Linked DNA regions of Homo sapiens: region 1 is linked to region 2. The links come from fine-mapping of genetic effects on plasma protein levels. Region 2 holds a variant in brackets. A gene starts in the other region. All regions are shown on one strand. Distances are between the middles of the regions.

The links. A credible set is the group of variants that fine-mapping cannot tell apart. PIP is the chance, under the fine-mapping model, that this variant and not a neighbour inherited with it causes the effect. The UK Biobank Pharma Proteomics Project read protein levels with antibody pairs (Olink). The fine-mapping took linkage between variants from a reference panel, not from the people measured, so its PIPs are less certain.
Region 1: EDA2R starts here. The variant in region 2 is the best candidate, but not a certain one, in a credible set for the plasma level of the EDA2R protein (UK Biobank, PIP 0.87).

The regions. Positions count from the first base shown.
Region 1 is chrX:66,638,600-66,641,474 of GRCh38, forward strand. It overlaps EDA2R (ectodysplasin A2 receptor), which reads right to left and starts at 479. Exons shown (of 7, transcript NM_021783.5): 1 at 396-479. RefSeq lists an enhancer at 1-299.
Region 2 is chrX:56,078,813-56,081,734 of GRCh38, forward strand. The region is part of intron 1 of LOC124900486 (a long non-coding RNA gene); the gene reads left to right. It also overlaps a transcript of KLF8 not described here. Among named protein-coding and RNA genes, the nearest start is that of KLF8, 150 kb to the right of the region's middle. The variant T/C (reference allele first, on the strand shown) is at 1,684.

The sequences.
Region 1 (2,875 bases), 11 Mb after region 2:
GCAGTTCTGCTTTCCTCAGGATGCTCCACAAGTCTGATCCACTGTCCCCGCCTTCACTAACACCCAGCCTCCTTCTCTTCTTTATCTCCCAACCCTAGATGCTCAAGGTTGTTGGACACGTCCAGGCATGTTCTCAGAGGCAATGCAGGTCCAGTAAGAGCCTACAGGAAATGGCTCGCCAAGATCCTAGAGATGTCAGCCCAGATCCCTGATACCTCAGAAAGCGCTCTCCGGACACAAATGGATGGACTGACAGCCAGCCACAGGGCGCCTTCCCAATTGTTCTGATTTTGCGGTACCCTAGCAGGATCATCCTGACCTGATTCTGTACTTCTGCACCTAGATGCCGCAGGTCCCAGCCGCCTTGCCACACCAGGGGGTGTTCCCACACTCACCCGGTAACGGACGAGTAGATGGCTCTTGCTCCCAAATGGGACTCCGGTACAAATCCACCTCAGCGCAGAGCACACATCTCACCCAGCCCCCTCCCGTCACCCCCCGCCCTTCACCCCGCGCCCCTCAGCCCCCGCCCCTCAGACCCGCCCATCAGCCCCGCCCCTCAGCCCCCGCCCCTCAGCCCCCAGCCTGCATACACACTCACAGTATATGAAATTCCTTGTAATCAAAGTTCCGCTTGACTCATTTCACATCCACGTGTAGCAACAACAGCCCAAACCCTCCTTTCACGGTAAGCTTACCTCTTCCGCCCCCGTGAAGTTCCTAGAGCAGCTATTGGACTGTTTGAGTGCCTAGGCGTGGCTACGAAAAGAAACTGCCTTTGAGAGGAACAATGTGAGGCTGAAGAACAGTGACCCAGCCACTGGTATGGCAGGAGCTGCAAATCTCCTGGGACTGAAGCGGGGGCCAGAGAGTAGAGGGCCAGGGAGTGGGGTCCAGAGAAAGCATCAAGTTGTCTCTTTCACAGCTGAATGCAGCTCAGCTCATCAAAGTTTATTCATGACTTAGCAGGCTTGGAGTTTGACAGGGAAAATTATTGTTGGAAAAGCCAAAATTTTCAGACACATGGAGAAGCCGCTTTCCAGCTCTGCATCTGCCTCAAAAAAATACTCCTCCATTCAGAAGGGTAGATAGGATTGTGACAGGAGGAAGAGAGCAGACATGAAGCAGGGAAAAGACCACTAAAAATAAAGGAAAATTGGATTCGGCACTCAGCTTTGATCATCCATCTTCTCTGGGCCCCTGAGTGTCTGTACAAGGAGGGGGTTGAGCTACGTAGTCTCTAAGGGCACTTCAAACAATGACACTTTGGGAGTTTATTAATCCATGATCTCAGAGGCAGCGGTGGATAAATCCCGAAACGTTACTAGTCCCTGACCTTGAAGAGTTTGCAGAGCTGGGAAGATAAAGTAGACCGGACAGAGACAGAGAATTAAGGGCCAAACTATGAGGTGCAGACTGGAAGGGTTTGGGGGCCAGTAGGAAGAAGGAGTAAAAAAGAGTCTGACAAGGAAAGCAAATGCTTTTCAATAGATTAGGAGCTTTTAAAAGAGGTCAAAGAGGAAATAGCCTAATGGGTAGAGGAAAAGAAAAGCTTGAGCCAAGGTATGGGGGAGAGGACCAAGAAATGAGCCATTATCAGTCTCTGAGGGACCCCTCCTGTACTGGGCAGAGGCTATATGCCAGCTCAGGGTGGAGTCTCAGTAAAGCAGCTGAAAAGCCTTTGGTGGGAAAGGGCTGAATAGGCCCTAAGCTGAAGTAGAAAAAGTCCTAAATGAACTTCATATCTGTCCCCTAGCTAGAGTTAAGACCAGAATAGGCTACTGTGGGCTCAGGCCTAGTAGAAGGGAAAACTGCCAGAATTGGAATCCTAGGTCTGCCCCTTACTAGCTTTGTGACCTAAGGCAAGTTACTTAACCACTCTGTGGCTCAGGATTCTCTTCTGTAAAGTGGGGAAAATAACAATCCCTTACTCATAGGATTGTTTTAGGTATTATATGAGTTAATATACAAAATAGTGTTCATATGCGTAAGGAGCTTAGAATGATTTCTGGGACGTAGTGGTATAGAAGTGTTTATTAAATATAAATAAATACATGAATGCAATTTAGGGACCTCTGAAATCATCTGTGAGATTCAAATGAAAATAGCTACCCTGGGTACCTCCTAATTCTGTTCTGTCCTTTCCTAGAAAACAGGACCTCTTCTTTTTCTCCATCCTTTCCTACCCAGAGAAGCTGAATTACAGACAGTTTTGAAACTTTAGTGTAAAGAACCCTAGCTTGGAATTTAGATGTCTTGACAAAACTAAGTGTAACATCATGTAAATCTCTTCCTCTCTCTTAGTTTTCCTTTCTGCATCTGTATCCTGAAGAGACTGTTGGACTGGATGACCTTGAAACGCTAGAGCCGTGCTTCTCTCATATTAATGTGCACACAAATCACCTAAGGATCTTGTTAAAACACAGATTCTGAGTTAGCAGCTGTGGTGTGGGACTAAGACTCTGATTTTCTAACTGCTTCCAGGTGATATTGATGGTGCTGGGCCACAGACCATAGTTTTAGTAGCAAAGGTTTAGAAGGTGGACAAGAATAACATTTACTGAGCACCTATAAATCATGCATATGTGTCCCTTTATACCTTACAACCATTCTATGAGGTTGAGGTTACCATCCTCATTTTGTAGATGAAGAGGCTCCTTGTACTCTGTGATTCTGCCTGGAAGTACAGGAGGAAACTTGAGATAGAGGTACCAGGGATATGTCAGAGTCCACAAGCTATTGTGGAAAGTGATTATAAGCAGCAAATATGAAACCACTGTCCTCCACCATAACTTGTCCAATAATACTATAACAGTTAGCTGGCCCTCACTAAGCACTTGCCAGGCACTGCTCAAATTTTTTTCATGAATTAATT
Region 2 (2,922 bases):
TTTCAGAGCCTGTTATTGGTCTATTCAGAGATTCAACTTCTTCCTGGTTTAGTCTTGGGAGAGTGTATGTGTCCAGGAATTTATCCATTTCTTCTAGATTTTCTAGTTTATTTGCGTAGAGGTGTTTGTAGTATTCTCTGATGGTAGTTTGTATTTCTGTGGGATCGATGGTGATATCCCCTTTATCATTTTTTATCACGTCTACTTGATTCTTCTCTCTTTTCTTCTTTATTAGTCTTGCTAGCGGTCTATCAATTTTGTTGATCCTTTCAAAAAACCAGCTCCTGGACTCATTAATTTTTTGAAGGGTTTTTTGTGTCTCTATTTCCTTCAGTTCTGCTCTGATTTTAGTTATTTCTTGCCTTCTGCTAGCTTTTGAATGTGTTTGCTCTTGCTTGTCTAGTCGTTTTAATTGGGATGTTAGGGTGTCAATTTTGGATCTTCCCTGCTTCTCTTGTGGGCATTTAGTGCTATAAATTTCCCTCTACACACTGCTTTGAATGCATCCCAGAGATTCTGGTATGTTGTGTCTTTGTTCTCGTTGGTTTCAAAGAACATCTTTATTTCTGCCTTCATTTCGTTATGTACCCAGTAGTCATTCAGGAGCAGGTTGTTCAGTTCCCATGTAGTTGAGTGGTTTTGCGTGAGATTCTTAATCCTGAGTTCTAGTTTGATTGCATTGTGTTCTGAGAGATAGTTTGTTATAATTTCTGTTCTTTTACATTTGCTGAGGAGAGCTTTACTTCCCAGTATGTGGTCAATTTTGGAATAGGTGTGGTGTGGTGCTGAAAAAAATGTATATTCTGTTGATTTGTGGTGGAGAGTTCTGTAGATGTCTATTAGGTCCACTTGGTGCAGAGCTGAGTTCAATTCCTGGGTATGGGTATCCTTGTTGACTTTCTGTCTTGTTGATCTGTCTAATGTTGACAGTGAGGTGTTAAAGTCTCCCATTATTAATGTGTGGGAGTCTAAGTCTCTTTGTAGGTCACTCAGGACTTGCTTTATGAATCTCGGTGCTCCTGTATTGGATGCATATATATTTAGGATAGTTAGCTGTTCTTGTTGAATTGATCTCTTTACCATTATGTGATGGCCTTCTTTGTCTCTTTTGATCTTTGTTGGTTTAAAGTCTGTTTTATCAGAGACTAGGATTGCAACCCCTGCCTTTTTTTGTTTTCCATTTGCTTGGTAGATCTTCCTCCATCCTTCTATTTTGAGCCTATGTGTGTCTCTGCATGTGAGATGGGTTTCCTGAATACAGCACCCTGATGGGTCTTGACTCTTTATCCAATTTGCCAGTCTGTGTCTTTTAATTGGAGCATTTAGTCCATTTCCATTTAAAGTTAATATTGTTATGTGTGAATTTGATCCTGTCATTATGATGTTAGTTGGTTATTTTGCTCGTTAGTTGATGCAGTTTCTTCCTAGTCTCGATGGTCTTTACATTTTGGCATGATTTTGCAGTGGCTGGTACCGGTTGTTCCTTTCCATGTTTAGTGCTTCCTTCAGGAGCTCTTGCAAGGCAGACCTGGTGGTGACAAAATCTCTCAGCATTTGCTTGTCTGTAAAGGATTTTATTTCTCCTTCACTTTTGAAGCTTAGTTTGGCTGGATATGAAATTCTGGGTTGAAAATTCTTTTCTTTAAGAATGTTGAATATTGGCCCCCATTCTCTTCTGGCTTC[T/C]AGGGTTTCTGCAGAGAGATCCACTGTTAGTCTGATGGGCTTCCCTTTGAGGGTAACCCGACCTTTCTCTCTGGCTGCCCTTAACATTTTTTCCTTCATTTCAACTTCGGTGAATCTGACAATTATGTGTCTTGGAGTTGCTGTTCTCGAGGAGTATCTTTGTGGCATTCTCTGTATTTCCTGAATCTGAGTGTTGGCCTGCCTTGCTAGATTGGGGAAATTCTCCTGGATAATATCCTGCAGAGTGTTTTCCAACTTGGTTCCATTCTCCCCATCACTTTCAGGTATGCCAGTCAGACGTAGATTTGGTCTTTTCACATAGTCCCATATTTCTTGGAGGCTTAGCTCATTTATTTTTATTCTTTTTTCTCTAAACTTCCCTTCTCGCTTCATTTCATTCATTTCATCTTCCATCACTGATACCCTTTCTTCCAGTTGATTGCATCGGCTCCTGAGGCTTCTGCATTCTTCACGTAGTTCTCGAGCCTTGGTTTTCAGCTCCATCAGCTCCTTTAAGCACTTCTCTGTATTGGTTATTCTAGTTATACATTCTTCTAAATTTTTTTCAAAGTTTTCATCTTCTTTGCCTTTGGTTTGAATGTCCTCCCTTAGCTCAGAGTAATTTGATCGTCTGAAGCCTTCTCTCAGCTTGTCAAAGTCATTCTCCATCCATCTTTGTTCTGTTGCTTGTGAGGAACTGCGTTCCTTTGGAGGAGGAGAGGCGCTCTGCTTTTTGGAGTTTCCAGTTTTTCTGTTCTGTTTTTTCCCCATCTTTGTGGTTTTATCTACTTTTGGTCTTTGATGATGGTGATGTACAGATGGGTTTTTGGTGTGGATGTCCTTTCTGTTTGATTTGATTTATGTATATGGCAAATTAGTAGCTTTTATGTGGATCTCTTGCGATGTTTATATAAAGGATCATGTATTCTACAAAGTAGTTTCCGTGTTTCATTTCCAATTGTAATGCCTTTTATTTCTTAATTTTGCCTAATTGCTCCAGCTAAAACTTTCAGTACACTTTTCAATAGCAGTGGTGAAAGTGGGCAACCCTATTTTGTTCCTGATTTTATTGGGAAACTTTTGTCTTTCACTTTTGTGTATGATTTAGCTATGAATTTTTTACAAATGCCTTCTATTATGTGGAGAAAGTTCTGTTCTACTCCAGGTTTCTGGGTAGTTTTTTGTTATGAAAGTATGTTAGATTTTGTCAGATGTTTTCAATGCACTAATTTTTCCTGA